Linked DNA regions of Homo sapiens. The protein of the gene in region 4 interacts with the protein of the main gene of each other region in a pairwise test. Each region holds a gene or a part of one and is shown on either strand. Other genes may lie near its edges.

The links.
Region 1: the proteins of ABHD16A (region 4) and TSPAN2 interact in binary tests that used the Homo sapiens proteins (3 or more experiments, as listed by UniProt).
Region 2: the proteins of ABHD16A (region 4) and GOLT1A interact in binary tests that used the Homo sapiens proteins (3 or more experiments, as listed by UniProt).
Region 3: the proteins of ABHD16A (region 4) and TMEM65 interact in binary tests that used the Homo sapiens proteins (3 or more experiments, as listed by UniProt).

What each region holds. Positions count from the first base shown.
Region 1 is NC_000001.11:115,046,669-115,052,449, forward strand, and holds the end of TSPAN2 (tetraspanin-2), read right to left. Parts: intron 3,888-5,781; coding exon 3,822-3,887; 3' UTR 1,343-3,821; downstream 1-1,342. UniProt on the Homo sapiens protein: May play a role in signalling in oligodendrocytes in the early stages of their terminal differentiation into myelin-forming glia and may also function in stabilizing the mature sheath.
Region 2 is NC_000001.11:204,210,277-204,219,212, forward strand, and holds the start of GOLT1A (vesicle transport protein GOT1A), read right to left. Parts: upstream 3,713-8,936; 5' UTR 3,631-3,712; coding exon 3,606-3,630; intron 1-3,605. UniProt on the Homo sapiens protein: May be involved in fusion of ER-derived transport vesicles with the Golgi complex.
Region 3 is NC_000008.11:124,313,085-124,321,872, forward strand, and holds part of TMEM65 (transmembrane protein 65), read right to left. Parts: intron 7,108-8,788; coding exon 7,002-7,107; intron 978-7,001; coding exon 876-977; 3' UTR 1-875. UniProt on the Homo sapiens protein: Essential for maintaining proper cardiac intercalated disk (ICD) structure and function as well as cardiac conduction velocity in the heart.
Region 4 is NC_000006.12:31,699,248-31,708,379, reverse strand, and holds the start of ABHD16A (phosphatidylserine lipase ABHD16A), read left to right. Parts: upstream 1-5,055; 5' UTR 5,056-5,098; coding exon 5,099-5,230; intron 5,231-5,421; exon of another isoform or gene 5,422-5,611; coding exon of another isoform or gene 5,612-5,768; intron 5,769-6,249; coding exon 6,250-6,306; intron 6,307-7,039; coding exon 7,040-7,106; intron 7,107-7,288; exon of another isoform or gene 7,289-7,351; coding exon 7,352-7,438; intron 7,439-9,132. Other genes in the region: LY6G6F (lymphocyte antigen 6 complex locus protein G6f precursor), read right to left, coding at 246-509, 593-922, 1,422-1,473; LY6G6F-LY6G6D protein precursor, read right to left, coding at 246-509, 593-922, 1,422-1,473. UniProt on the Homo sapiens protein: Phosphatidylserine (PS) lipase that mediates the hydrolysis of phosphatidylserine to generate lysophosphatidylserine (LPS). LPS constitutes a class of signaling lipids that regulates immunological and neurological processes.

The DNA.
Region 1 (5,781 bases), on a different chromosome or scaffold from region 4:
ACAAATAGTGCTGAGAAAACTGGTTATCTACATGCAGAAGAATGAGACCAGACCCCTATTTCTCACCCTACACAAAATTCAAATGTATTAAAGACTTAAATATAAGACCTGAAACTATGAAACTACTAGAAGAAAACACTGGGAAAATGCTTCAGGAAACTGGTGTGGGCAAATATTTTTGGGGTAAAACCTCAAAAGCACAGACAACCAAAGTAAAAATTGACAAATAGGATTACATCAAGCTAAAAAGTTTCTGCACAACAAAGGAAACAATCAACAGCCACTATGCAAAACAGTTTGGAGGTTCCTCAGAAAACTACCATATGACTCAGCAATCCTACTGCTGGGTATATATCCAAAAGAAAGAAAATCAGTATATCAAAGAGATGTCTGCATGTTCATATTTATTGCAGCACTATTCACAATAGCCAAGATACAGAATTAACCCAAGAGTCCATCAACAGATGGATAAAGAAAATGTGCTATATATACACGATGAAATATTATTCAGCCATGACAATGGCTGAATAATGAATAAAATCCTGTCAATTGCAGCAACATCATAGAATTGGAGGATATTAAGTGATATAAGCCAGGCACAGAAAGACAAATATCATCAAGATGAATCATGTTCTCAGTCATATGTGGGAGCTATAAAAATTGATCTCATGGAGGTAGTAAATACAATGGTGGTTACCAGAGGCTGGAAAGGGTAGCAGGCAGGGAGGGATGAAGAGGGATTGATTACTGGGTACAAAAATACAGTTAGATAAAATGAATAAGTTCTAATATTTGGTAGCACAATAAGGTGACTATAGTTAACAACAATTTATTATATGTTTTAAAAGGCCTAGAAGATCTGGAATGTTCCCAATACAAAGAAATGATAAATGTTTCAGGTAATAGATATCCCAATTACCCTGATGTGGTTATTACACATTGTATGCTAATATCAAAATATCCCATATATCCCAAAAGTATGTACAACTATTATGTAACAATAAAAAAATAAAAATTAAAAAAATAAAGTATATGAGAGGATATGCATAGGCTACATGCAAATACTACACAATTTTATACAAGGGACTTGGACATCTGTGGATTTTGGTATCCACAGGGGGTCCTGGAACCATTCTTCTATGAATACTGACAGATGACTGTATATGCAGTAAGAGTCCTTAGGGTGTTGCTTTTAAGTCAACTACCAATAGCAAATTATAGAAGGGTTACCACTCTGTTTTTTTTTAATCACATTATTTGATTGGTAGTTTGACATTTAGATAAGTTGCGTGAAGGTTTGTAGAAAGATATAATAGGACTTTAAGATAAATCAAACAAGCAATTTCAGTATATAGAAAATTTAATATGAAATCACTTAAAATATTTCAACATTAAGAAGTCTTAATTCAGTGCCTTGGCATGAGACATTTAAAAGCATGTTTGGGTCTAATCTCAAATTAGTTCAGGGGAACAGAAATAGCTGAAAATTTATGTATATGTGTATGTATATATATATATACACACACATCTGTATATACATACATGTATATATTCAAATTATATACATATAAAGATATTTGTAGATTCAAGATATATAGGGATTATATATCTATATATATTATATGTGTGTCTATACAGATATATATATATATATATTCATCTTTCTGTGTGTGTGTGTATATATATCCACACACACATATAAAATCTATTGTTGCTTAGTGGTGGAATTCTCTAATTTTACTCATACGCATATTTTGGAAAGCTTATCTCCAAAAGGGGCACATTAATCGTACATGGAACAGAACCCTTCTCTTCTACTTTAATTAATTTCATTTTAAATTTATTTATTTCTATTCTTCCACTTTTAACTATTATAGTCTCCTTTAAAGTTGTTAATTCAGATAGGAAACTAAACTCACTTTTGTGGAATCAGAGATGATTCTGAGTTGGAAAGAACCCGAGTATGCACTTGGGCCTGTTTCCTGTCTTCAGGCAGAGAGATAAACTAAAGCTAAGAGAGATGGACTGCCTGTTCTTTGCCTAAAAGGTCACATTTCTCAACTACTGGGGTACAAACTATATTTCATGAAGTAATTTTTGTAAAATAATTTTTCTTTAGCTACAGACACAGTAAAGTAGCCATGTATAATTAAGTTTTTAGCTTGCCTCAAATATGACCTTTGTTCTTCTAGAAAAATTTCCTCCAAAATCAGTAGCAGTAGCAAGTATGGCAGAAAGAGAAATGTGGTTCTCCATGGGAGAGAGACTATTTCAAGCAGTCATATCTTTTTAGCAAAATGTTTTGTGAGTTTTTTGGGAGTGTGACACTTTTAGTGCACACTCAAAGACTTGTGTTTTCACATGTATAGAAGTTCATCTGGGGGTTTCCAAAGCCTTCCGTATTTTCACTTATGTGTGGCCTTACAAAATGTAGTTTTTAAAAAATCTATGGTTTACTAAATGTAACACGTTAAAAATCACTGAAAAATTTGCCAATGTAAATCCTAAATTTGGGTTTACTAAGTTAAAATGAAGCGTTAAGACCAAAAAAACATTGAAAATTTTATTTTCACAGGGGATTTGCATAAAAAGAACATTATTTTTGTTCTGTGTATATATAAGTATTTTTGTTTCCTTAACTTGTTTCTGTTGCCCACACACAACTAGGAGAAGATGCTTTTCTTTATTTTGGTTTGGCCAAAGATGCTAATGGTTAAATTATGAAGGACTTTGTTTTACTTATGTTAAGTGGTGAAAACTGTAGTTCTTAATCTATGAAGAATTCTCTAGGTGGCTATACAAGAAAAATACAAAAAGTTAGGAAAACATGTAAACGTAAGTTATGAGGTATTTCATAGATACAGTGCCCATACAAATTCTCTTTCCCACAATTTTCAACTGCCAGATCTCTTGCTTTAGTCTTTTTTCCTTATATTTGGAGAAACAGAAGAGTTTGACATAAAAGTCCCTTTGAGGATGTGAGGGTTGCAGTAGTTTACAGCAGGGTCAGAAAATGAAAGTAATAAAGCAATATTTACATGTTTTTGTATAAGAACAAAAATATTTCCTTAAAAAGTTGTTAAAAGTTTTTTAGTCCTATAAACACTCACTTTTATAGGGCACATGATTGTCTGTGTGACTTCTCTTTCCAGAGGAAGACTTTTTTATTTTTAAATTCTAGGAAAGCATGACTTATTCAAATTGGATTTTCCATGCTATATTTAGTTTTACAGATGTGTTTAGTTCTAAAACTGTGGTTTACTGTATTCTGGGGAGAGCATGTATATAAAAAAACCCAGGAAACCCTTACACCCAACTTAGACACAGTCAGTTTTAACACTCCATTGTGATCTCTCAATTCTTACAGCTTATTACTTCCATTAAGAAGAAATCTCTGAATTCTCTGCATCTAATTTTCAATGGCTACAGTCTGAGAAACTGACCCATTATCACTTTTTCTAAATAGCCAAGTTCTCAAAGTTTCTGAAAGCTCTTTGATCTTTTTTTTCTGGGAGCGAAATAGGTTGTTCTTCTTATATAACAAGAATCAGGAATTCCCAGCAAACAGATTTCATTACGTATAAAGCATATTCCAGAAACACGCAGATCACACATGAATATGCTCTCAGTCATCATAAACAGGCATTCACTCAAGGGGTAAACCAGTAATGAGCCAAACATACGTACTCATGCAAATGTACAATTGACAGCAAATTATTTTAGATCCTAATGTCATTTCAGTGTTAAAAATGAGCTGGGAGACAGCTCCTGTGACATTTGGTATGAAAGCTTTAGATTGCAATTTTCATGTAGAAGTAGCTTCATATCACATCTCGTGAGTTTCGTATCGCACAGCAGAGGACCATGCTGAATATCATGCCAAAGATCTGAAACAGAAGAAACACTCATCAGTGACTTTGAAACGGGTACTGATAGGTAAAAAGTTCAGCAGACTTCCTGGGTGTCTAACTCAAGTTAACAAATAATTATAACCAATAATTACCAGTCACAAATGACATTTTAGTATGTTACTTAAGGTTGGCTATGGGGTAAATAATTCTAGATTAACTGTTTAAATGTGTATTATTATTGTTAACAAGTAACAAGGCTCTGCTTTAAAAGAACCTACCCTGCTTCAGAATTATAGAACCGTTCTGAATACCTGTGAAAGACAGACACAATACTGGCTTTGGAATTTTATATTTCAGGTTAATCCTAGATCTCTTTTATATGTTTATTTTGAAAACTGTGTCCATAACCACTTGTTGTTTAGATATGCTTGTGGTCTAAATAATTTTCTATTGCTGGAAAAGCTCTGATTTTTTACAACAGTGTCCATACATCCAAAAATGGAGTATCAGCTGGGTGCAGTGGCTCATGCCTGCAATCCCAGCACTTTGGGAGGCTGTGGTGGGAGGATCGCTTGAGCTCAGGAGTTCTAGACCAGCCTGGGAAACATGGTGAAACCCTGTCACTACAAAAAATACAAAAATTAGCTGAGCATGGTGGTGTGTCCCTGCAGTCCCAGGTGCTTGGCAAGCTGAGGCGGGAGGATTATTGAGCCCAGGAGGTCGAGGCTGCAGTGAGCTGTGATTGCACCACTTCACTCCCTGGTGACAGAGACCCTGTCTCACAAAAAAAGAAAAAAAAAGTGGAGCATCACTTCATTCTCAGTCCATTTTTAAGGGCAAACGATGCTTCACTGTTTAATTCAATAGTTTTAGCAAAACATAAACTAAAGGGTTTATACTATGGTATTATTGACTTTTACCTTTTGGATAGTTCTCTGAGAAGTTAAATACTTGAGTGAAATCAATATCCACTTCCATGGTTTGAATAGAAGAATGCCAAAGAGTCTTCTTGTCCGCTATTATTTCCCCTACAATTTTGTAGAGCCCATGGAACCCTATCTGTGGGCACCATTCCATAAACTACTGTCAATGCTTATTTTAAAAAATGGGTACTATAACTTTCTGGTTCTCTCCTCAATTCCATCCTAAGTCAGACTAGGATCTGTAAGTGCTAAATTCAATAAGATATGAATGATCAGTTGTTTTGAAAAGGGAGGGGCAGAAGCAGGTAAGGGCATGGCCAGGAACAGGATTTCAAGCTTCTGGATGACAGGACTCAGTACCAGTGTGTAGCACGGGCGACACCCAATGCACTTTTAGTTAGCTGATTACATTGTGCAACTCTCACTTTACAGAGAAAAGAACTAACGAAGAAACCTGGGGGTGCCGACTCAAGATAGGCTCACTATGGGCATTTCCCCTTTATCATTGCCATAAGGTTGGATGTAATCCCTACCCATCCTGGTTTCAGTGAGACTCCTTCAGTCTCAGCCTACTGCCGACACGAGTCAGGGGTGAATGCTTCTAGGCTGCTCATTTGCTGAGATTGTGAAACTCTCCATTATGCAGCACACGCTCAGACCTGCCTCAGGACTGTCCTTTGGGGAGCTGCAGAACTGCAGCCAGGCTATCCCCAGAGCAGGTGGGGAGGACCTGAGAAATGTCCCTTGATTTGGAGGGCCTCAGCAGAGTATTTCCAGCCACTTCTCCACCCCTCTGTGCTCTAAATACAGAAAAGGGGAAGGCGCTTGTGTGTCCCCTGATAACTGCAAATTCACTGATTTCCTCACAATTCCCACAGCCCTTGCCTTAGTTTAGGCCATGAATTAATCTACATAGAGGGCTAGAGACTAAGTGCCATCTTAGCATTAGCTATTATCATCCAACCCCTGGACAATGGAAATCATCCTTTAACCCGCCTTCCAAATCC
Region 2 (8,936 bases), on a different chromosome or scaffold from region 4:
TACTGCTCTAACTGCCCTTTCTCTGTCTCCTCTGCCAGCTCCTACTTCTCTCTCTTCTTCTTGGGATTTGAATTGCACAGGGCTTGTGCCCAAGCTCACTTCTCTTCTCATTCTATTTCCACATGTATTCCCATGTGTTTATTTTTGTTTTTAATTTTGTCTTAAAGCTGGGATCTCGCTCTGTTGCCTAGGCTGGAGTGCAATGGCACAATCATAGCTCACTGCAGCCTTGAACTCCTGGGCTCAAGGGATCCTTCTACCTCAGTCTCCTGAGTAGCTGGGACTACAGGCACTTGGCCACCATGCCCAGCTAATTTTTTAAAATTGGTTTAAATTTTTTTGTTGTTGAGACAGGGGTTTTGCAATGTGCTCAGGCTGGTCTTGAACTCCTGGCCTCAAGCGATCCTCCCAAAGTGCTGAGATTACAGGCATGAGCCACCACACCCAGCCTCTCACGTCTTCAAACCTCCCTTGTATGCTGATGACACTGATGTCTCTCTTTCTAGTCCATGCCTCTCTTTGGGCTTTGAAACTCATATCTAGCTGCTTACTTGGCATATCTGCCTGGTTTTCTCTCAGCCATCTTGAACTGGGCTAATCTTCAATCCCAAACTGGTCTATTTATCTTCCCTCCTTCAACTTGTGCCTCCCTTGGTTGTCCTCAAATGAGTAAACATGTCACCACCGCCCACCCCACCACTTAACGCAGAAGCCCACCCCTCCCCCATGAAATCCACAGCTAAGTTTTCTTTTCTTCTTCCAAGATACATGTTGAAAGCTGTCCATTTCTCTCCATTCTTAACACCTAATTCCCGGCCACGATCATCTCTTTCCTGGACGTATGCAGCAGCCCCCATTTGGCCTCCTGCTTTATTCCTGCACCCTCCCAGTCCTTCTCCACACGGCGCTCAAAGGTCTTGCAAAACATACAACCTGATCATGTTAGCATACTGCCTAGACTCCTTCACGGCTGCCCACTGAGATTAGACTGCAGCAGAGCCTTCTCATCCACACCACAGCTCACAGGCCCTGCCTGGTGGGGCCCAGGCCTGCCTGCCCACCTCATCTCCTGCCACTGTCCCTATTGCCTGCCATGCTCCAACCACACTGTTCTCCATGGCTTCCATGTGAGCCCTCTTGACTCAGGGCCTTCGTACATGCAGTTTCCTGGTCTGCAACACCCTGCCTCTCACTTGTTACTTGACAATGCATCCTCATCATTCAGGTCTCAGCTGAAATGTCAGTTGCTCAGGGAAAGCTGGTCCACTCTCTTCCCTGACCTAAATCCCTCATTTCTCTCTCTCACAGGACTTGCTTATCATATTTGGTAAGAGTATATTACTTGCAGGCTAATTGGTTTAACAAAGTGTCAGCGTGCCACTGGGTTGAGGACCCAACCCACCTCTCTCTATATTTTTATTCGCCAGGTCCATGATTCTCAACTGGGCTGAGGGGATTGTGGGTGGGGAAGCGGGGTGCGGGATGGAAATTTGTTTCCCAGGGGACATCTGGCAATGTTTGAAGACATTTTTTATTGTCACAACTTGGAGTGGGGGTGCTACTGGCATGTAGTGGATAGAGGCCAGGGATGCTGCTGATATCCTATAATGTACAGGACAGGCCCCCACAACAAAGAATTATCCTGCCCCAAAATGTCAATAGTGGGGAGGTGAGAAACTGTGCCTGCCCTCGGTGATCTCATGGATGCTCATAGTCCTAAAAACCATGTATATGCAGATTATTCCCACATTTCTGTCTCCAGCCCAGGCCTCTACCTGGAACTCCAGACTCACATACCCAACCACCTACCTGACATCTCACCCGGATGTCTAACAGCACAAACAGACTCAACACATCTAAAGCCCAATTCCTGCTTCCCCCCACTCAACCCTTCCCATTGCACAGGCTAAAAAATATACAAGGCATTCTTGACTCCTCTTTCTCTCACACCCTATGTCCAAACCGTCAGCAAATCCTCAACGCTTTCCTCAAGGCAGATCCAGCATGGACCACGCCCCGCTAATCTCCTGCTAACACCTTGGTCTCCACCTTCACACACTCAGGACTGGCTTCCCTGGCTGGGCGCGGTGGCTCACGCCTGTAATCCCAGCACTTTGGGAGGCTCAGGCAGGTGGATCACTTGAGAAGTCAGGAGTTCGAGACCAACCTGGTAAACGTGGAGAAACCCCATCTCTACTAAAAATACAAAAATTAGCCAGGTGTGGTGGTGGGTGCCCGTAACCCCAGCTACTTAGGAGGCTGAGGCAGGAGAATCGCTTGAACCCAGGAGGTGGAGGTTGCAGTGAGCAGAGATCATGCCACTGTACTCCAACCTGAGCGACAGAGTGAGACTCTGTCTCAAAAAAAAAAAAAAAAAAAAAGAACTGGCTTCCCTGCTGCTGCCTTCATACCTCCACAGTCTATTCTCAACCCAGCACCCAGAATGATCTTTTAAACATAGAAATAGAACATATCACACCATAGCACAAAACCAAGGTCATTACCATGGTCTATAAGTCTCCAGTGTCCTGACCCCTCAGTGACATCCCTGACCTAAACTCCTATGATTCTCCCCTCACCTCACTTTGCTCCAGGTATACCCACCTCCTTGTTGTTCTTCAAACACACCAAGTATGCTAATGCCTCAGGGCCTTTGCACTGCCTGTCCCTGCTTCCTGAACATTTCCCCTCCAGAGAGCTGCGTGGCTTTGCTTCCTCACTTCCTATAGATCTCTGAAAAAAGATCTGAATAAAGGCTCACCTTCTCAGTGAGGCTTCCCTGACCACTCTATATAAAATAGCGACCCCTCCTACCTCGAACTCCATAGCCTCCTCTTGTTTTATTTTCATCTGGAGGACTTATCATCTTCTGATATACTATATACTTCTTTCTGTTAATTACCTGTCTCCCCTCTCTAGAATGTAAGCAGGGAGTCAGTTTCATTTAATGTTGGACACTCTATATCCAACACAGTGCTTGGCACACAGCAGAGACAAATCTGTTGAGTGAACAAAAGAATGTTGTCACCAATTCTCAGATGAAAAACCAAGGCTCAGAGGCTTTAAGTAACTCACCCAAATGAAGCCCACAGAGCCACGGTTCTTCCCATGGCCCCAGACTTGTTCCAAGACCTCCTCCCTACCTCTTCCCCCAAAAGAAGGGGAAGGATGTTTAGGAGTGAGGGTATGGTGGTTTGGTCAGGGGAGTGGAGTTTAGTTTTTTATAAGAAGCCCCCAGGGCCACAGGAGACCTTGATGGTGTGGGGAAAGATGTCTGAATGGGCAGAGGCCTCCTGAGTCCACCTTTGTGGCAACCCAGTTCTAAGAACCCGGGATGGGAAAGGGGTCAGTGTGAATGGGGAACCTGCCAGGCCCCCTGGGCACCAGCCTCTAGCTACCTGTGGGCCCTGAGCAACTCCCACCCGCTGGAGGGTAGGGAGCCACACCCCACCCTGCCTGCTGCCCCAGGGTGCCAGCACAGCATCTCCCAGCCCCTGGCTCCAGAGGTCACGCTTGTAGTGACAGAGAGCCCAGCTGGGAGAGAGAGCCAGCCGGCAGGGAGCCTGGCCTGGATAGCCCATTGCAGCCCCGCTCATCCCACTTACTCTGCCATTCGGTGATGGAGATCATGCCGCACTCAGCCTGGGGGGCTTTCCGGGTGGAAGCGGGCAAGTGGAGCGTGGCCCAGAGGACGCAGCTGGTACATGGTCACGGGAAGCTGACCCTTGGTTAAGTTGCGAAATGAGCCTGTGGCAAATCATTAACTCTCCCTCCAGCCCCCGCTCCACCCCCGCACACCACGCAGGTGCTTCTACTCGCCAGCTCCCTCCTCCCGTTTTCCGGTAGGGCAATGCCCCGCCCCTCCACCTGCCGCGCCTGCCCGGGGAAGGCACCGCCCACCTGACCCTTTCCTCGCACCTCGCGGTGTTCTGCGGCTCTCGTCTGCTCCGCGAAACTTAGATTGTATGTGGAAGCATTGGAATCTAGGGGGTGCTCAAGTTTCTTGCTTGGTTTGATAGTGTGGGAAGAGTTGGCATCTGCGCATCCCTTTGGGAATGTACTAAATTCATCTTGAAAGTCAAGCTTTTTGCTCTCTGCTATTGCACATGCTAGGCGCTGGGAGGCGATGAGCGACTGAGCACAAAGCCTGTTGTTGACCTAATGGCAGAGCCAGATCGGGTTAAATCAATGGCAAAAGCGCCATGGGGGAAGTTAGACGTGAAGGTCTTCGACCTCCTTTCCCCAAGCGGCGTCCAAGCTTTGGACTGACTGTGATGTTGAGCTATGGAAGACAAAGCCCTGAATTTGGGGTTGGGGCAGGACTGCACAATTTAGGAGGCCTGGTTCTAGTCTACCCACCAGCTGTGTAGACATGGATTCGTCCTTTGGGCCTGCAAAAAGAGAGGCAGTTAGTTCCTAACATCCTTTTTTCCCATCGCAGAGCAGTGGTTCTGACGTGGCATTGATGCCAGGAGAGCCAACATCCACTTTGCAATGTCTTCTGTGTCCAGAAATGAAGAAATGAATTTCAAAGACTACCTATATACATCATTTAAAAATGCAAATAGGCCTGGCATACAAAATGCATTATGTCTGTAATCCCAGCATTTTGGGAGGCCAAGGCAGGAGGATTGCTTGAGCCCAGGAGTTTGAGACCAGCCTGAGCAACATAGTGAGACCTTGTCTCTACAATAATAAAAATAAAAAATTAGCCGGATGTGGTGGTACCTGCCTGTAGTCCCAGCTACTGGGGAGGCTAAGGTAGGAGGATTGCTTGAGCCCAGAAGGTCGAGGCTGCGATGAGCTGTGATCAAGCCATGCACTCCAGCCTGGGTAGCAGAGCGAGATCCTGTCTCAAAAAAAAACAAACCAAACAACAACAACAAAACCAAGGAAAGCTAACATAATTTTTTAAAAAGAAACAAAAAGATAAATTATAATAAAACATGATGTCTTTCAATATATAAATGTTCAGGCAAGACTTACCAGAAGACATAAATGAAATAGGCAGATTGCTTGCACCCACACATAATATATGTTTGAATTTAAGAGAAATAGAAGATGAGCCATTCTATGCAAAAACAAAAATCACACACATGCAAGAAAATGAAAGAGTAGCAGGAAGTGAACATAGAATAAAAACTGTTAGATAAGGAATAACAGACCAGACGTACTTGCATATGATGAGAGGGAAAGCATCTTAATTGAAATAGGGATAACATAGCAAGGCAAATTAGAGAGCACAAGGTGGAGATAATATAGAAGTATGATGTGCATGCAAAGGAACTCAGTCTTAGGTATGTGTGTATTGTCAAAATAGCTCCCATGGAATGGGGTCGCCATAGAGTACCACAGACACATCAACCTCTGTCTTGAAACATATCAGCGTTGAGGTAAAATTCAGTCTCTGGGATCTTAAAAGGCCTTAGAGATCACATATTTCCAATGGGCAATGGGGGATAGAGGATGGATTGGGAAAAGAAAAGAAGATAAAAGTGGTTTAGAGCAATTGCATGTGGACACCCGGGACAGTGTTGTAAAGACAGGACACAACATTTCCACACATAATTATGACAACATAGCATCCTTGGGCTCCAAAAAAACTAAACATATAAAGGATGGCAATAATATGAAATAAACCCTAAAAACTTTTATTAAGGAAACTCAGTGAGATCTTCTGCATCTCAAGTGTCTCTGATTCCATGTTTGCTTCTCTCACATATCCTCTGTTAAATATTTTCAGTCAATTTCTTCGTTTATTCAGTATCACCTACTGATCAGAACTGTTTTCAATCAAATACATAGTAGCTGAAATCTTATAATCCTTTGTGTAGACAATGCATGGAGTAGATTATTCAATAATTTTAAGACAATGTCTTTATTCCTTTTAAGCTTCTGCTCCATAATAACCATCTCCTAACTTTCTGAGTGTTCATGAAATTTATTTTTAAAAGCTTACAAAACCTTTTGGTATTACTGTCAATTGAAGTATGACCAACTTTTACTGGTAGTGGGTTTAGTTCAGTTGTACATTCGAAAGTAGTACAGGATATGGGACAATTCTTTGTTTTGGAAATCTGTCCTGTGCATTGCAGTCTCGAAATGCCAGCAAGAGTTTTGCACCCTTATGATTGAGACAACCAAATGCCCCTAGGGGCCAGAATCATCCCTGTTGAAATCACTCGTAGGTTAAGAGCTTCATCCTGGCTTCGTGAAGCCTTGGGCATTTTATTTATCCTTTCTGTGCCTCAGCTTCTTGGATAATTATAGTACCTATGACTGACATAGAGGATGAGGATTCATGAGTAAATGCATGTGAAGTGCATAGAACCAGGTACCTGGCACATAGTAAGCACTTAATGAACCACTGTTATTCCTGTTACTGTATAGTTATAATAATTACTATTGTTATTAATGTTATTATTAGTATACTGTTAATATGCTTTATATGAAAGACTTCTACTGTCATCTCAAATTGTGGTGCTAAACCACTCCCGCAGGTGTATAAAATAGCAACTGGGGATGCCCCTTCCTGCCCCCACCCCCAGCCATGGAACCCACCTGTGAGCTCAGGAGAATTAAACGCTCATGATACTGGGCCCTCCGGGCCTGATTCTCTGGGTACTGGAGCTAAGCCCAGAGGCGCTGTCCACAACTCATCCTTCTGGAGAGGGACCTTCATAGGGACAACGCCGGGAAGGCTGGTGCTAGTCCTCGACCCATGGCAGTCTCATGACCCTGCCATGATGAGAAAAGTGTGGGGTAGTGCAGTTACTCCCTGGGCTGGAGGCATAGAAGTGGCAGGGGAGGGACACCTCAGGGATGGCACGGGCCCTGGTGATGTCTTCCAGCAAAGGCTGTAGAGCTAGTAAAGGAGGGGTCCTGGAAAACCTTCTCCCTCTTCCCACATCAGGCCCCTGCAGGTGGCCAGGGAGCCTTTGCAACATCACCACTTCCACTTCCTCACATTTGGAAGTGAATTTGAGTTTTCAAAGTGATTTTCATCCATTTTCTCATTTGTCTTTCTTGAAAGTTCCATAAGATGGTGGTTAATATACCCATTTTCCAGATGAGGGAACTGAGACTCAAGAATTTAATGACTTGTCCAAATCTTCATGCAGCTAGCAAGGAGCATGTTGCTAGGGGCAGGAGTTGAGGATGACATGCCACCTTCTCTCATTGGTCTCAGTAACGAGGTGAGGCTCGGGATGAGGAGGGGGACGTGGCGTGGCCCCAGTTCCCTGGCAGCAGCAGGGTCTGAGGCTTGGCTGCCTGCCTGACCCTGTCGTGCCTGTCTTCAAGAATAAATAAGTGATCATGCAGTTACACAGCTCTGCTCCTTAAAGGACATTCTGCTATTGCATTTTCATTTACATTTCTCAGCTACTACCCCCTTTTTACAAATCCCAACCTGGCTTGATCTGGTAGGGGATGGAGCAGGCACCAGCTGGCATCATCTCTTGAGAGGAGGAGGCAGCCCTTGTCGGTGGATGCAGTGATGCCCGGTGGTACTCTGTGGTCTCACATTCCACCTCCTCCCCAAGCCCTTGCCACTGGCTCTGGCTCAGATGGAGCCTGAAGATAAAGGCTCAGCCCCCCAGAAAGTGACGAGTTCTCCAATATGCATCCCCCTACCCCAGCCTCTGATGCAGGCCCTCCCCCAGAGCCTACATCTGGTCACAACTCTCCCGGGTTCACAAAGGACATCATCCTGGGGATGTGACAAAATCCAAAATAGAGTCGAATCTTAAAAATGACCTCCCCCGTACTAGCCCTTAGAAATGGGAACAGGTGTCCAGAATTCAGCTTCAGCCATGAAAGCCAAGCCGATGCAAGATCAGGAATTAGAGGAAGCTTGCTTTCTCATCTCTCCTTCTCGCTTTTTCTTGAGCCATCCCTCCCTCGGACAACATGCAGAAGCCCCGCTGAGCCTGCCAGTCTCCCGGGCGCACCTCTTCTCTTCCACTACCCACCCCACAAAATTTACCAGGCTTCTTGACTCTTGGTCCCCACAGTAAGATTCCAAATTGAGAAGCACTGGTAAAGCCCTTCACACAGAGTGTCAATACCTGATAACCACAAAACACCTGCCAAGAGAAATAAACCAAAGGGATGGAGGCAGAATGAGAACTGGGGTGGTCTCATACCTCCCACCAAATTATACAACTTCTTGTAAAGCAGCAATATAGCGCATTGTGTAGTAATCAAGAAAGGCTGGGAATTCATTCTCTTCTCCTGCTGTCCTGTCCTTTGTATGAGTCAAACCAAGGGAAGGTGCCAGGGCCTGAAGCATCTGATACTGCCATTATACAGAACCTTGGGGCAAACCCTGATCTGGGGTCACCTGAACTGAAATGATGATGCTGGTGTTGGTAGCATACCCTCGCTTCCCCAGCTCCTGGGGATGGAGGCCAAAAAGTGCAGGCTGAGGCACAGGGGAGGAAGGAGCACATGTTTTACACCCAGCCTACCTCCCAGCCCCCATTCCCCTTTCCTGCCAACCCCACAAGCTGCCAACCCCACAACCCCACAAGCACCACAAGGGCAGACACCGAGTAGGAGACACACACCACATATACAAACCATTCATTTTATTTCCTGTATTGGGTTTATACAAACTTGCAAGATACAAATGCAGAACTCACTGGGATTCTTCAGTACCTAAATCTAAAAAGAATGCTGCTGAAAGGGGGAAGCAAACTCTCACCTGTTTCAGTCAGGCCATCCCTCCTCCTGGGGAGGGGGCTCATTGGCTAGAAAGATGCTAAGGGGATGCTACAGCTGTTTGTCCCCTGACAGAGATTCCATCTATCTAACCTTCACCCTTCTTCTAAGGCCACTTTTATGCTAAATAAAGACACTGAGATAATAAATTTCCTTGTACAGTTTATTGTCTAATACTAGCAAATCAAATTGGCCCCAATATGTGCATAAAT
Region 3 (8,788 bases), on a different chromosome or scaffold from region 4:
CACCTTTTTTTAAAAAAAGCTTTAGTCTCTTAATTTCCAAGCATCATGTTAAATCCCTTAGTTCAATCTAATTCCACAATCCCCATTTCAAAGACTCTAAAATAATCATTTGCTTCCCCTCAAAAGTCAGAATCCACCATGTAATTATTCAAAACTGGGAAACTAAAAGGTTAAAAAAAATCAACTAAAAATTGTACGCTTGTTAGTATACACGGTTTCATGTAGCAGGGAGACCACATAATTGCTCTTTGTGATTAACCCTCTGGCCCTTAAAATAGTAAAGTCAGAAAATTAAAATAAGTAATATATACTTAAAATACTTAAAACCTGTATCTATATCCATTTTCAATAGATGTGACAGTTAAGAAATGACTGAAATTATATTATTATAAATGTTTACTGCATAACAGTACAAAATTGATGTTCCCAAAAAGAGGGTAAAAAAATCTTTAACTGACATTAAACATCTTAAGTAATTTGGAAAAATCCCAAGGTTGAAATGTAACTATCAGGGAACAACGAAAAATGCTTTCATGCATGTACACATGTTAAGTAACAAATAAGCAAACCCCAAGTCAATACAGTACATCAATGACACTTAAATAACATTATGAATATAAAAAGAAAGGATAAAATGTTGACTGCTATTGATGAAAAAGCATTTCAACAATATACACAAAATGATACTAAACAGCTTTTTAAAAAAGATGTCCTAAGAAGATCAAGCCACAATAAGTTAGTGTTTTCCATAATACATGCTAAATTATTTGATCCCATATCTATACTGTTACTGTCTTAATTCCTAAATGTTGTGACAGCATATTTAATTACTGAGGTACATTAGTTTACATCTTTTTATAGGTATTCTAAGAGGATTAACTTTTCGTTTCCAGTTTTTCATCTTCTTCACCTCCTCCAAAGAAAATTAAAGGAAACATTCCTAGAATGCAGCCAATAGTCACCCCAACAGCTTTGCCCTAAGGAAACAAAAGAGAACATTTTTAAAGTTACTTTATCTCTGATAACAAGAAGGCAGAGAAAAAATCTCACCAGCTCTTCTCAATATATTTGGATTTGCTACCCTTCATATATATTCCTCTTCAATATTTATCCCTGTGTATACCTAATTATATGTAGATATAATCATTATGTAAACATAGCTTTGTTTTCTTCCTCAATCCGTACCCCTGCATAGCCACACATTTTCTCACAAACTCTTTTCCAAACTGCTACACAAACTTAAAGACTTCTAAGTTCAACTGAATTGACGGGTCTATATTCTACTTAAATCTCTCTTTACCGCCATAGCCACTGCTACTTCTTCAACATTATAAGTGAAATAACAATAAGCATTTCCATGTATATTTCTTCCCCAATGATTTGTTTAAAAGTCAAACAGTATTAATATTTGTGCATCTTCATGAAGCATTCATCCTTGACAACGCTGCACATACTTACATAGCAATTTCAGTATACATAAATGTAGACACACATACCAATTATCCTGCAACTTCACCTACATTATAAAAATTTTATTTCATTTTTATTTATTTTATTTGTTTTAGAGACAGGGTCTCCCTTTGTCACCTAGGCTGGAACGCAGTGGTATGATCATAACCCACTGCAGCCTTGGCTCAAGCCATCTTCCTGATCTCTTCCCGAACTCTTTGGCTCAAGCGAGCCTCCTGACTCAGTCTCCCCAGTAACTAGAACTACAGACACATGCCACTATGCCTAGATAATTTTGTTACTTTTATTATTTTTTTTTTTTGTAGAGCCAGGGTCTCCCTATGTTGCCCAGGCTGATCTTGAACTCCTGGCTTCAAGAAATCCTCCCACCTTGGCCTCCCAAATGAGATTACAGGCTCTGGGAGCCACCACACCCAGATCATTATAAAAATTTAAAATTGTTATTTTTGTAAATGGTTTTCAAAATTTGCATTCCTATGATGACTATCAAGTTTATATACTTTTCAATTAAGTTTCATTTCCTCATACAAATATTTATTGAGAAGCTACTATGTGTCAAACTCTGTACTGGGTGTACCATGGAGATGGACTAATCTTATGCAGTCTGTCTCTCTCCTCCAGGAACTTCTAGTTAGGTACACAGGGAAAGACAAAATAAGTTCTATCAAACATTACAGTTACTATGATAGCTACATAATCTTTAGTCTTGAATGAAATGTTTTCTCTTATACATTGTCTATTTAGCTATCATATCCTACAGTTTTTTTTTTGTTTGTTTTTTTTTTGAGACGGAGTCTCTCTCTGTGGCCCAGGTTGGAGTGCAGTGATGTAATCTCGACTCACTGCAAGCTCCGTCTCCTGGGTTCATGCCATTCTCCTGCCTCAGCCTCCTGAGTAGCTGGGACCACAGGTGCCCACCACCACGCCCGGCTAATTTTTTGTATTTTTAGTAGAGCCGGGGTTTCACTGTATTAGCCAGGATGGTCTCGATCTCCTGACCTCATGATCCACCCGCCTCGGCCTCCCAAAGTGCTGGAATTACAGGTGTGAGCCACCCCGCCCAGCCCACATCCTACAGTTTTTCTAACAAATTTAATAGTAGACATTAATATTTTGACAATAGCTTGCATAAAAATTTTTCAACTCTTATTTTGAGGCTTTTGGTGGTGGTAGTGGTATTAGTAGTATGACCACTGCTTGATATTAATAGTCAAAACTGTTATTTTCGTTATGCCAAAACTTTAAAAGGTATCATTCATGCAGAGTTTTAACAAGAAGAAATTTTCTTCATTCCACATGCTGATAAAGTTAATCCTAGCTTCTTGTTTTTTGACTTTAACATATTTACTCATTTGAATATATGCATAGAGAAATCATTATATTCTATTTCAGACTCCTGACTTTCCCATATACAGAAAATAACCATTGCCAATAGGCCCCACTTTCACTTCCCACCCATTCTGTTAAATTCCTCTTGCAACCAAGGCTTTCCTTGCCCCTCACTTTAGGAATACCAGTCAGTGATTTCTGACCCAATTATCTCAAGAGATATAATGTCAATAGGGTGGAGAAGAGGAAAAAAAGTGATATACTTTTCTCACTCCCTGATCCAGGACCTGAAACAAATTTTTCCATTGTGAAAACATTTATTTATACATTATCATTATGTCTTACAATACTCTAGGCCCCATAGTTAACTACACTGGGGCTAATTGTAGAACTTGAGTCCCATCTGTAATACTGTTTTATAAGAAAATATTTTTTGAATTTCAAACAACCAAATTACAAGTGAGGTTTTAAAATACACCTGTGTCAACTGGAACCTGCATGTGTATCTGTATTTATTCTATCATGGGTAAATTTCAGAGTTAGCTTTTGTCATGAGTAGATGGCTGGTCACTAACTTCAAATACTTCAGGCTGTATAGAATCAAAATGTTATGTTACAGAGTAGAAGATTTGATTCTAAAAACAAGCAGAGTCAACAACTAAGGAACAGAATCACTGTTGCCATAAACCAGTGAGGGGTTTATCACAATACACACGCAGACACACACACACTCAATATAGTAATACTAGTTTAGTAATCTGATGCTTTTGTCATAGAGAAGAGAAAATGAACCTGCTTTTAATACAGAAAGAAAACAATTATTATGCCCCAGGAAAATAAACTTCTGATCCCAACTTTAATGCTAAAATTTTTAAGACAAATTGCTAGAATGTTAGAATATCCTTATTCCCTCAAAACTCCAGCTGGTATCAGGGGCTAGTCTCACTTTACTTACAAATTGTAAGATATGGACACATGTAAACTAAAAGGAAAAGCCCAAAATTAACATTCTACTTTCTTAAAAGACTTTTCAACCTTTATAAAGTAAAAATTACAACAAGCAAATAGGTCCTCATTTTGTTTCTCCACACTCTTCCTACATTTTGATTGAAAAGCAAACACTTCCCTGGTATAGTTGTGATCCTTCTACTACTCATATTTTAAAGGGTAGTAATTATTGCAGATTTAAAGTGATTTAAAGTGATTAGTGATGAATTTAACTCTATATTACCTATGTGTATGTTTTTGTACTCTGTATGAATATTTTGCAGGTAAAAATTGTTTACTTCCAAAACATTCAATATCTTCATTAAAATAAATTCCATCTAACTTAACATTAATTTTATATTTTATTCTTCTTCTTCACCTCCCGTTAGTGTTTCAATTCATTGTCATTTGATTTTTCTTCTTCCATCAGTCCATAGAAATTGCTCAGAAATGATTATCAATGAGCAACTACATACCAAATCCAAAAACAAAAAAAAATTTTCAGAAATTTTATTTGATTTCTTTATATCAAGAGGAATTGGTTATCATTCATTACTTCTTAAAACTTCGTCCTTGATAGCTCCCATAAGACTATGAGCTCTTAGGTATTTTCTAGGGTTCTTTAATTCTGCACATTTTCTCTGGAACAACAGTTCTCAAATTTTAATGTACAACAGAATTAAAACACAAATTGCTGGGTTCCGTCTCCAGAACTTTTCATTTTGTGAATCTGTAGCAGGCACATTTTAAGGCGGCCTCCATGATACCTTCCTTCTGGTATTTAAGTCTTTGCATAATCTCCTCCCCTTGAGCATAGGTAGGATGCTCTAACTTGCTTTGAGTAATAGGAAAGGTGATGGGGTGTTACTCCTGTGATTATATTACATTACATAAGGCTCCATCTTGCCATCCTGCCAGCAGACTCATTCCCTTTCTCCCTTGCTGGCTCTGAAGATGCAGGCTGCCATGTTGTGAGAGGGTCTACTGAGAGGGCCACATGGCAAAGAACTGCAGGTGACCCGTAGATCGGGGTGTCCAATCTTTTGGCTTCCCTGGGCCACATTGGAAGAAGAAGAATTTTCTTGGGCCACACATAAAATACACTAACACTAACGATAGCTGATAAGCTTAAAAAAAATCACAGAAAAAATCTCATAATGTTTTAAGAAAGTTTACCAATTTGTGGTAAACTTTTGGATTACCAAAAGCGAGTTGCACAAGCTTGCTCTAGATGGAGGGAGGCCTCCAGGACATGAGAGTGCAACAGCAAGCCAGAGGTTAGGTCCCTCACAGCCACAAAAAAATTAATTTTGCCAAAGACCTGGGTGAGCCTGGAAGTGGATTCATCACCAATTGAGCTTCTAGACAGGAACGAAGTCCTAGCTGGACATGATTGCAGCCTTCCAGAGGACCCATTTAAGCTATTCCTGATCTGACCCACAGAAAATGAGAGATAACAAATATATGTTGTTTTAAGCTGCTGAATTTGCATGTTTTTGTTTTTTTTTTTTTTTTTTTTTTTGAGATGGAGTCTCACTCTGTCACCCAGGCTGGAGTGCAATGGCTTGATCTCGGCTCACTGCAACCTCTGCCTCCCAAGTTCAAGCAATTCTCCTGCCTCTGCCTCCTGAGTAAGCTGGGATTACAGGCGCCTGCCACCACGCCCAGCTAATTTTTGTATTTTCAATAGAGACAGGGTTTCACCATGCTGATCAGACTGGTCTCAAACTCCTGACCTCAGGTGATCCACCCGCCTCGGCCTCCCAAAGTGCTGGGATTACAAGCATGAGCCACCCCATCCAGCTGCAATAATTTACACAATAATAGATAGGTCTAAGATGAAGACTGAGTGTTTGCATTTCTAAGAAGTTACCAGGTAATGTTGATCCTGCTGATGCTGGCACCACATTTTGAGAACCACTCTCCTATGAAATCTCATCTTCTCCCATGGTTTGAACAATCATCTACCTTTTCAGTGAGGCCTACAGTGACTCTCCTATTGAATATTGCAGTCTGCTTCCATCCTAGCACTCCTAGCCTCTTCTACCTCGCTCTGTTTTCCCTTTTTATTCTCATAACACATATAAACTTCTAATATGCTAAATATTTTTATTTATCAGATTGTTTATTGTCTGTCTCCTCACTGCTTGAATGTAAGATCTATCAGAAATAAGATCTTATTTTGTTAACCAATGTATTCAAAACTCCTGTATCTCTACTTGGCATATAATACGTAAACAATAAGTATTTGTTGAATGAAGGAGTGACAATACCCATTATCACTAACTCTGACCTATCTAACTCTTGACTCTAACCTAAATGCCTACTAGGTGTCACCACTCAAATGTCCTATTAGTATCTCAAATTCAATGCGTCCAAAATAGAACTCATTATCTTCCCTTACAAGCTTATTCCTCCTCCTTTTTTTCTTGATTTTATTGATGGCATCATGATCCATCCAGTTTACTTCTTACTTAAAACTCCCCTGGCTCTCCATCACTTAGGTAAGAGGCTCAAGCTCCTTAGCATTCACATACAATAGCTTTCCTGTCTGATCCCTGCTTACTTCTCCAATGTTGTCTCCTGCTGCTGCTTATACCTACAGCTACTATATATTATATTCCTAAAGTCGGTTCTTGTATTTACCTAAATATACCCTTTTTTTATCATCCTCTTCTAATTGCTAGTCAGTATGCTTGGAACTCCTCTTATTCATCTAGTAAATGTCTCATCTATAATTCAAAAATCGGCTTAGATCTAATAATAACCAAGAAATCTCCCCACCAAAAGAAGTTACTCCCCACAGTGTTAATTCCCTTACCTGTATCATGGTTATATCTTGTACATAATTCATTACTGCATATGTCATACCAAATTATAATTTGTTTATATGTTTGGTTTTCCACCTAAACAAGTTCCTCAAGGATAACCACAGTTTATTATTCGTTTTATGTTCTTTAGACCCCAACCTATAAGAGATACTCCCTAATACTAAGTGAATTACAAAATATTTTTTAAAAATTAAGTATACCTACAAAAAATAAGGAGTTAATAACACAAATTACTGTTCTTCTGAAAACTGCCAACGTCTAGACAATTTTTGTTAAAAACTCCATTCAAACCAATTTTAGTCTCAAATTTCTCAAGGGCCTGAACTATACAGAATCTTGCTCTGGCTACCCAACTCATTATCATAAACCATGTAAATTACTTACCAAATGTGTACTAAGACGTGTTTGCCACATGTCAACTTGCTTTGGTGTGAGATCAGGAATTGACAGGCCTAACCTGGAAGCCAATGCTTCAACGTAGCCTGCAAGTCTTTGAAGAAACAAGACAATATGATATATAGGTTATGTTTCAATAAAGCCTTTACAAAAGCAAACAAAACAAAACAAAGACATGAGGACAAAATATAGGTTTTTAAAAAGACATGCAAATGTCCTCATATAGTAAACTAATTACTACAAGGAGAAACAAGATAATTTTACATTTGCACTTGTACTCTAGAAATGACATAAACATTCTTTACAACTTTTAATTTTTATTGCATATATTGTTTAAAAATATTTTATTAACATATTTAACACAAAGGAAAATTAATGACAGAGCAAGTATTCTCTATTATTATTTTTAAAAACAATTCAAGGTATGTAACAATTTGTACAGATAATTAGAATTTCTGCAATTATTCCAAACTCAAAGCAAAGCACTTTAACATATGATACAAATTAGTAACTTATCAGACAGCAAAAGTTTCCAAAATTCCTCAGATTGGTAAACTAACAAAAACACCTTAGAACTGTCAGGCCAATCTCAAGTATTTTATCAATTCTAAGTTGCCATCATTTATTGGATACATCCTTACTTTATGAACTGTAAGAAAGAAAAAATATTGCTAATTAAACTATGTATACTACCAACAATAAGATGGATCCTGATATCAGATACGTTAAAATGCATCTGAGAATGCCTAAAATGTGGTATTTGTTATTGAATGATACCCCCCAAAAGAGAGAAGAGAAATAGTTTTTAAATACAAAGACTTCCAGAAAAATCTTCATCTCTAAACAAAAACAATTGTTTTATGATGCAATATATAGCTAAATGGCTTTAAAATCTCTTAGATCATTTGGTTCTATTAAATATATCAGAAAGCTATACAATGACTGTAATATTCTCATTATTTACTTTAATGTTGGAAACTGGGAATAGAATGTTTAAGAGATGATATCATGATACATTTATGCCAGGAATTCGAAGAATATAAAATTCTTGCCATGGTCCTAAAACAAAGAAACTTTGTTTTTAACTGTGGCTTTGGCCCCAAACTCCAGTGCAGAAGTCTAATATAAAAGGTTAAGGTTAGATCACTTAAAAAGCTGCTTTGCCTAGATTATAGGGCTAAGTAAACTTCTAAGAAAAAATTCAAATCTGAAATTGTAACACTCAAATGAGTCAAGGAAAGAAGAGACAAAATCAAAGACAGAGCAAGACAGAGCATATTTATCATAATAATGTCCACTTAGTCTAATTTATACTCCCCCAGGCTTCCCCAAGCTCAGGAAGCAACTCAGGCCATCTGCTACTTGGAACAAGAATGTAAAGAGAGAGAGAAAGCTGGCCTTTTCTAAATAGATGTCCTTAGTTTGTTTCATTATTCCTGCCACATAAAGTAAAGAGAGCAAAAAACAGCCAAACCCATATATGCTTTGGCCATTATTTCCTTTGAAAGTTCCCCCCTCTAGAAAACATGTCTAGTCAGTATCCTCAAATTCGAGCCATATCCCTTCTCTTTGGGTTTTCTGGGAGTAGGGTGAGGTGGAATAATGAGAGAGGTTCTTCCTTTTACTCCTGTCTTACCCTTGGAGATGTCTATAAAATACATATAAATACTTCAGTAAACACAAATTCCATTTTGCTTACATTATGGTAAATTTAGAATAAACTTTTGCATACATCAGAACCACTCATGAAAATTACTAAACACAACTGCCAGGGC
Region 4 (9,132 bases):
TCCTGTCTCTACAAAAAATTTAAAGGTGCGGTGGCTCATGCCTATAATCCCAGCACTTTGGGAGACTGAGGCAGGCAGATCACTAGAAGTCAGGAGGTTGATACCAGCCTGGCCAAAATGGTGAAATCTCGTCTCTACTAAAAGTACAAAAAATTATCCAGGCATGGTGGCGGGCGCCTGTAATTCCAGCTACTTGGGAGGCTGAAGTGAAAGAACATCCCTTTCCGTCTCCTTCCTCAGTTTACCTGCCAGGCTAAAGCTGACCCCTTTGTTGTGAGTCATGAGGCAGCGGATGATTCTTGGTCTTCGGCTCCTGGGCTCAGAAAGCCCCTCCCCAGGACACACCAAGAGCAGGGCAGCCTCACTGCCCCAGAAGGACTGAACACGGCCCCTCACGGGACCCTTCCCTTCCTGCCAGGTCACAGAGTCCATGCGTCTGCTGGGGACCACAGAGCACAGGAGGACATTGCAGGGGGATCCATCTGCAGCCCTTGCAGATAACTGGGATCCTGTAGGGGAGAGAGGGATTCCTCAGTTCTTCACCTGGACTTCCTGGGCCACAGTAGCCCCTGGTCTGCATGCCCCCACTCACCTTTGAGCACCAAGACGTCGTACACCCTCCAGTTCTGGTAGTTGTGGTGCTGACCTAGCACAGCGCACCAGTACCGCCCGGCATCTTCCTCTTTGGATCCCTCCAACCACAAAGAATAGTTCCCCAGCAGTCTGAGCCTGGATTCCCTTCCTGGTTTTCCAGGGTCTGGGGCTGGCCTGCCCACTTGGACTTGGGCTACCAGGGTGGTGAAGGAGCCTGCTGCAGGGCTGCAGAACCATGACAGGTGTTCGTCCCCATGTAGAGTAGGTGGTGAGGGACATGGCAGCTCTACTGCCTCCCCCAAGGCCACATAGATGGCCTGCATGTTGTCTGTGGGAAGAGGGTTGTATGAGGCCAGAGACCTCCATCAGATCAATAACCCCCCATTTGATCTTCAACCCTGGCTTCCTTCCCTTCTGGGGTCCCCCAGCACAGGCCTGGCTGGTGACCACATTTCTCAAGTGACAGCTACAAAAATAAGACAGGTGGAGAGAAGAGGGTAAGGGCTTTCCTCCTCTCTCCCCCAGCCAGTGAGGGGGTCTGAGGGCAAGAGGGAAAAGGCTGAAAGTTGGCAAATGCCCACATCTCTTCTACTCATTTCTACTTTTCTGGAAGCATTTACTCATTCTTCTTATTTTATAAAGGAAACTGCATAACCTGGACCCTCGTTGCCTCTGGGTCTTCCCTAGTGTCAGAGGCAGGAGGAGGTTGGTTGGGGTAATTCTATCTTCTTGAGTCAGATGCCTTCGCCAGGCTCCTAGGAGAAAGAGCAGTAGTCCCTCCCCAACCTTGCAAATAGCTAAGGAATCCCGTACCTCTTGCCCCTTACCTGCAGCCTGGGGAGTTCCACATAGGAACAGGAGGAGGAATAAGACTGCCATGGGGAGAGCCTGCCAAGTTCTCTTGCTCCAAGACCTGGTGTCCCCAGGGAGGAAGCAGAGTCCAGATAAAGGCCCACACTCGCTGGTCTGGAGTGACAAGGGGCTCTGGAGGGGATGGGAATGCTGGGGCGATAAAGCCCAGCAGCATGTCTACTAGGGATAAAGTGACCACCACTTTTCTATCCTGGAGAGAAAAGGACCCAGCCCAGGCCACTCTGAAGATGACCTTTTTGCTCTTCTGATTCCACATCAGCTAAGGGGCTCAAATAAAGACTTTCCATGCAAAAAACCATGCAGAGAAGTGGTCCTGCCTGTCTAGCTCTTGTCAGTCTGGAAGTACATTCTGAGGTCTCTTTCACTCCTAAGAAAGGTCAGCCATGAGTTGGGTGGATCACTTGAGGTCAGGAGTTCGAGACCAGCGTGGCCAACATGGCGAAACCCTGTCTCTACAAAAAATACAAAAATTAGCCAGGCGTGGTGACATGTGCCTGTAATCCCAGCTACTTAGGAAGCTGAGAGGCACCAGAATCGCTTGAACCCGGGAGGTGGAGGTTGCAGTGAGCCGAGATCGTGCTACTGCACTCCAGCCTGGGAGACAGAGCGAGACTTCATCTCAAAAAAAAAAAAAAAAAAAAAAAAAAAGAAAAAGAAAAGAAAAGAAAAGAAATGTCAGCTATGAGTGAAGAAACTGAGTTTGAGTTTTTATGTTGGTCCTCCACAGAACCCAGCACAAGACTGTGTATCGAGTCAGTGTCCCGTAAATGATTTGGAATGACTTTCCCTGTGGTTGTCTGGCATACCCCGGACCTCTCCTGAAACCCTAATAAGTGTATTAAATTATTACTCAGGGACAAGGCTAACGGGCTGATTCATCCTTCTGAACGGCAAAAACTCCTAAGGCAGATCTTCATGCAGTTATTACAGTTTTAATGTGTAATTTATTTATTTTTAAAATTATTTTGATGAAATATTCCATACATACCAAAAACTATATGAAGTACAACTATATAATGGATAAATGCTTAACAGAGTAGAAGACTGGACAGCAATGAGAATGAACAAACCTAGTGATTTGCAACAAAGTTGAATCTCACAATATAATGAGAGTAAAAGAAGCCTGGCCAGGCATGGTGGCTCATGTCTACAATCCTAACACTTTTGGAGGCCAAGGTGGGAGGGTTGATTGAAGCCAGAAGTTTGAGGTTGGGCAACAGAGCAAGACCCCAACTCTGAAAATAAAGGCCAGACGCCGTGGCTCACGCCTGTAATCCCAGCACTTTGGGAGGCTGAGGCAGGCGGATCACGAGGTCAAGAGATCGAGACTATCCTGGCCAACATGGTGAAACCCTGTCTCTACTAAAAATACAAAAATTAGCTGAGTGTGGTGGTGGATGCCTGTAGTCCCAGCTACTCAGGAGGCTGAGGCAGGAGAATCGCTTGAACTCAGGAGGCAGAGGCTGCGGTGAGCAGAGATCATGCCACTATACTCCAGCCTGGTGACAGAGCGAGACTCCGTCTCAAAAAAATAAATAAATAATAAATAAATAAATAAATAAATAAATAGAATATTCCAGGCCGGACTCGGTTGCTCATGCCTGTAATCCCACCACTTTGGGAGGATGAGACAGGCGGATCACCTGAGGTCAGGAGTTCAAGACCAGCCTGACCAACATGGAGAAACCCCATCTCTACTAAAAATAAAAAAATTAGCAGGGCATGGTGGTACATGCCTGTAATCTCAGCTACTTGGGAGGCTGAGGCAGGAGAATCGCTTGAACCCCAGAGGCAGAGGTTGTGGTGAGCCGAGATCGGGCCATTGCACTCCAGCCTGGGCAATAAGAGCGAAACTCGGTCTCGAAAAAAAAAAAAGAAAAAGAAATAGAATATTCCAGGCCAGGCACAGTGGCTCATGCCTGTAATCCCAGCACTCTGTGAGGCCAAAGCAGGAGGTTCACTTGAGCCCAGGAGTTCGAGACCAGCCTGGGCAACATGGTGAGACCTTGTAAAATTAGCCGAGTATGGTGGTGTGGGCCTATAGTCCCAGCTACTCAGGAGGTTGAGGCAGAAAGATGGTTGAGCCCAGCAGGTGGAGGATCAGGGCAGTGAGCCGTGATTGTGCCACTGTGCTCCAGCCTGGGTGAAAGAGCTAGACCCTGTCTCAAAAAAAAAAAAAAAAAAAAACAGAAAAAAAGAATATTCCGTTTCAGTCAGAGATCCTCTATGCTGTGTAACCACAATTCTGAATTTTCTCTTTCTTCTCCACTTGCTTTATCATTAAATTTTATGTGTTTTTGAATCTAATATACTAGTATCACGTATACATTCTTCTGTGGCTTTCTATTTTCACTCAGCATCATGGTTTTAAGATCCAGTTCATGCATAACAGTAATGATTCATTTATTTTCTTTTTACAAATATTCCGCATATCTTACTGTGCTGAATTTTCGTATCCAGGACCATGGTGTAGCTTTCCATTTATTGAAAAGCTTTTCGTTTACCTCTTTCTTTTTTTATTTTTTCAATTATTATTGTTATTATTTTGAGGCAGGGTCTGGCTCTGTCACCCAGGCTGGAGTGCATGGAGCGATCTCAAACTCCCGGGCTCAAGCGACCCTCCCACCTTGGCCTCCCAAGTAGCTGGGACTACAGGTGGGCACCACCACACCCTGCTAGGTCTTTTTTTTTTCCCCCTTGGTATTTTGTGTAGAGATGGGGTCTCACTATGTTGCCTGGGCTGGCTTGGAACTCCAGGGCGCAAGCAATCCTCTCTCAGCCACCCCAAGTGTTGGAATTACAGGCATGAGCCATGGCCTGGAACTCCTGGACGCAAGCAATCATCCCTCGGCCACCCAAAGTGTTGGAATTACAGGCGTGAGCCACCGCGCTGGGCCAGTTTACCTTTATTTATTTATTTAGAGACAGAGTCTTGCTCTGTCACCAAGGCTGAAGTGCAGTGGGAAGATCTCGGCTCACTGCAACCTCTGCCTCCCGCGTTCAAGCGATTCTCGCGTCTCGGCCTCCCGAGTAGCTGGGATTACAGGCGCGCACCACCCATGCCAGGCTAATTTTTGTATTTTTAGTAGAGATGGGGTTTCACCATGTTGGCCAGGCTGGTCTCGAACTCCTGGCCTCAAGTGATCCCCCCGCCTCGGCCTCCCAAAGTGCTAGGACTACAGGCGTGAGCCACTGCGCCGGGCCGGGCCAGTTTGCCTTTTCAATAACTTTTTATAGTTTTCTTCATAAAACCTTGCATTTCTTGTACTAGATACATTCCTAGACACCTTATGTTTTCGGTTACTCTTATCAAGTACTCCTAATCTCACCCCTCGTTTCCGCTGTCGCTCTAGAGTCTGCCAATAATGAGACAGAAAAAAATTATTGAACCATGCCCGGTAATTTTCTGATTCTCCGCGTTCTAGTGGTCTTCCACTAGTTTCGGACCACTGCTGTACCCGTAGCTCCAACTGCGCGAAACTCTTCTCAGGAAGCACTGAAAATGTCGCAACTCGCCCGGAGGCGGAGCCGGTACGGGCTGACGTCAAGGGCACACAACACCTCAGAGGCAGGGAGGGCGGGGCCGGCAGGGGGACCTGCTGCTGGAAGAGCAGCGGCCCGAGCCGGGGCCATGGCGAAGCTGCTGAGCTGCGTCCTAGGCCCCCGGCTCTACAAAATCTACCGGGAGAGGGACTCTGAAAGGGCCCCGGCCAGCGTCCCTGAGACGCCAACGGCAGTCACTGCCCCCCATTCCAGCTCCTGGGTGAGTCGAGTTCCTCCCCACCGAAGAACGTGGTACAGTCCAAACCCTTTACGGCCTTTTGCTCCCCAGAAGTGCCCATAATGGGAAATAAGGGGAGCCTGCTTGTCAAGCCAGTTATCCGCAAAATCTGCGCTCTGTGTGCTTCCTGAGTTAAAGTCACGCCTACGGACTGGCCGCCTCCTTTCTTTTTCGCTCTTTACCGCTTTCTCATTCCGACTGCCACTCTTTGTTCTTTCCTCTCCGCGTCCCCCCGACCCTGTGTGTCGTGGTTCGTGCCGGTCCCAGTTGAGTCTTGAGTCCCGGGAAGAGACCCTGCGCGGACTGGGGAGCCGTTGAATTTTGCTGTCAGACTCCCAGTTTCCTCTTCTTCAGTGCCTCTTCATGCCTCCCCCGGCTCTGTTTTTATCTTCCCTTTACCCTCGCCTTGAATTTCAGAATGACTTTTACAGATCCTGTATCCGTCGGTCCTCCCCTCAACCCCCGCCCAACCTAGCCTGGAGACCCGAGTCATTGTATTCTGGAGAGCTGGCGGGTGGTGGTAGGCTGTTCTAAATATTCTCTTCCTTTTTATCAGTTGTCTCATTGTGTTACTGTCTCCTACAAACTGCCCGCTCCTACCCACATTCTCTTCTTAGTCAACTACTCTTATTTCTGATGCTTTTCTTTCCTTCTTAGATTGTCTAGGTGTCTTTTCTTTCTTCTCAAACTAACCCTTCTCCCCACATGCACGCGCCTGCAATCCATTTGAAACTAGGCTGTGGAAAAGGAGCAAAAATCGTCCAATGCTGCTTTCACTTTTGCTTCCAAATCCAGCTCCCTGTGTTTGTTCCCATGGTCAGGGGTGGGAAATTAGGTTCAGAGTGAGGGTGAGGAAGAGGAGTTTCTGTGGGGGCCAGGGATGTTTCAAGAGAGATAGTCAACGAGACTAGAACCAGAGGACACACAGCAGGGCTTCTGAAAGGGAAGGGAAAGGACCTGCCAGTGGGCAGGGTCCTTAAGGAGGCCATCTGTTTTGGCAGGATACGTACTATCAGCCCCGTGCCCTGGAGAAACATGCTGACAGCATCCTGGCACTGGTATGTCTACCCTGGCATCTGGGACTCTGCATCTTTCAGACCCACCTGTCCTCTTGAACTTAGCCCTCCCTAACTTGGGAGCAACAGTGCCCTGGGGTTGGGGGATGCCCTGGGCTCTGCAGCAGACCTCTCCAACACAGACACACAGGCACACTCTAAATGTGCATACTTGGCACTCCCCTTTGGTATGTAGCACTGCTTTCTCTGGGGGCAACCTGAGCCGTAAGGAAAACATGTTTACTCTTGGGACCATCTGCAGGTGCTAAGTCCTGCAGTTCCCCAGTGACCTGTCCTCCCTGGCAACTAACCTCTTTGGCTGCAGGGACAGCTGTTCTTTCTGGCACAGTTCCTGTGGTGACGTTTGCGCATCTCTTGGGGACCAGGCCAGGGGCTGTCCTGAGCAGGGCCAATTGAAAAGGCTTGATTAACTTGAGTAGACAGAGAGACTGCCTTTAAATGTGATGGAATTATGTCTGGAGATGGAAGACATAATTCTTCCATAATTCCAGAGGAAGAAAATAGAGCCTGTACCAAATTTTCCCAGCCTCCATTACATTGACACACTACTTTTCAACAAATACTGAGCACCTACTGTATTCATGGTGTCATACACCAAATATGATATGATATCCCTCAGGTTGTCCATCTTGCTCAGAGTGTATAGTATATGCCTGGAATGGCAGGTGTGTGTGTGTGTGTGTATTGATTGCCTGTCCCTGTCTCTCTGCTGCAGGCTTCAGTATTCTGGTCCATCTCTTATTACTCCTCTCCCTTCGCCTTCTTCTACTTGTACAGGAAAGGTCAGTGTGGTTTCAAAGGTGGTGGGGTAGCAAATGGGCAGGTTGTTGGCAGATGAGCCAGCTCCCTAAAGAGGAGAGGGGACCTGTGAAGATGGCTTGGCTTCCCTCTTCCATCAGGCATCTTCTTCCTCTTAGGGTATGGCTGTTCCAAACAGGGAGTGTGGGGTGGAGGTTGGGGCTGAACTGGGAAGAGGAGCTGAGGGACATTGCGGAGAGGGTCTCACATTGTCCCTCTCCCTTCCCAGGTTACTTGAGTTTGTCCAAAGTGGTGCCGTTTTCTCACTATGCTGGGACATTGCTGCTACTTCTGGCAGGTGTGGCCTGCCTCCGAGGTAGGTGGAGAGGAAACCTGGTTTGAATCTTATCTGTCACTGTCACTGGTTAAAAATTAAGTACCTTGTGCAAATACATTTTAGTGATGGGCCTCCGAGAGGGAATCATTGAGAATGGTTTAAGGCATGATCTTTTCCTTAAAAGACTTGGGTTATAAATATGAAAAAATAACTGAAAAGTAACAAAAAGGTTTGCTTTTTTTTTTTTAAGAGATAGGGTCTCACCATGTTGTCCAGGCTGGTCTCAAACTCCTGAACTCAAAGTGATCCTCCCACCTCAGCCTCCCGAAGTACTGGGATTATAGATGTGAGCCACTATGCCTGGCTGCTTTTATCTAGAAAAGATGCATATACCCTACAACAATTCTATATATGTATACATACTAGGAAAACTCCTGCACATGTATAAACAATATAGATGTACAAGAATACAGCATACAACATTGTTTGTAATAATCCTAAGCTGGAAACAACTCCAGTGGCTACAAATAGTAGGATGGATAAAATATGTTCTGTGTGGCCGGGTGTGGTGGCTCATGCCTGTAATCCCAGCACTTTGGGAGGCAGAGGCCAGTGGATCACGAGGTCAGGAATTTGAGACCAGCCTGACCAACATGGTAAAACCCCGTCTCTACCAAAAATACAAAAATTAGCTGGGCATGGTGGCACGTGCCTGTAATCCCAGCTACTTAGGAGGCTGAGGCAGGAGAATAGCTTGAACCTGGGAGGCAAAGGTTGCAGTGAGACGAGATTGCGCTACTGCACTCCATCCTGGGCAACAGAGCAAGACTCCGTCTCAAAAAAAAAAAAAAGTTCCATGCAATAGCCATGCAAGAGAACACTATATAGCAATGCAAATGAACAAACTGTAGCTACGCTCAACAACGCAGATGAAGCCAGGTGCAGTGGCTCATGCCTGTAATCCTAGCAGTTTGGTAGGCTGAAGCAGGCAGATCACCAGAGGTCAGGAGTTCAAGACCAGTCTGTCCAACATGGTGAAACCCCGTCTCTACTAAACATACAAAAAAAAATTAGCCAGGTATGGTGGTGAGCACCTGTAATCCCAGCTATTCGGGAGGCTGAGGCAGTAGAATTGCTTGAATCCAAGAGGCAGAGGTTGCAGTGAGCCAAGATTGCGCTACTGTACTGCATCCTGGGCAACAGAGCAAGGCTCCATCTCAGAAAAAATAAAATACAAAAAATTAACTGGGCATGGTGGCACATGCCTATAGTCTTAACTGCTTGGGAGGCTAAGGCATGAGAACTGCTTGAACCTGGGAGGCAGAGGTTGCAGTGAGCCAAGATAGCACCACTGCACTCCAGTCTGGGTGACAGAGCGAGACTCTGTCTCCAGATAAACAAAAGCAATGCAGATGAATTTCTCAAATGTTGTGTTAAATAGAAGAAGCTAACCACAAAATAATGTATGCAGTATGTTTTCATTTATATAAAATTCAAAAGGGATGTGCATGTTTGAGGTAGAACACCGAAGACAACAAGGGCATGGTTTTCTTTTTTTTTTTTTTTTTTTTTGAGACGGAGTCTCGCTCTGTCCCCCAGGCTGGAGTGCAGTGGCGCGATCTCGGCTCACTGCAAGCTCCGCCTCCCGGGTTCACGCCATTCTCCTGCTTCAGCCTCCCGAGTAGCTGGGACTACAGGCGCCCACCACCACACCCGGCTAGGTTTTTTTGTAT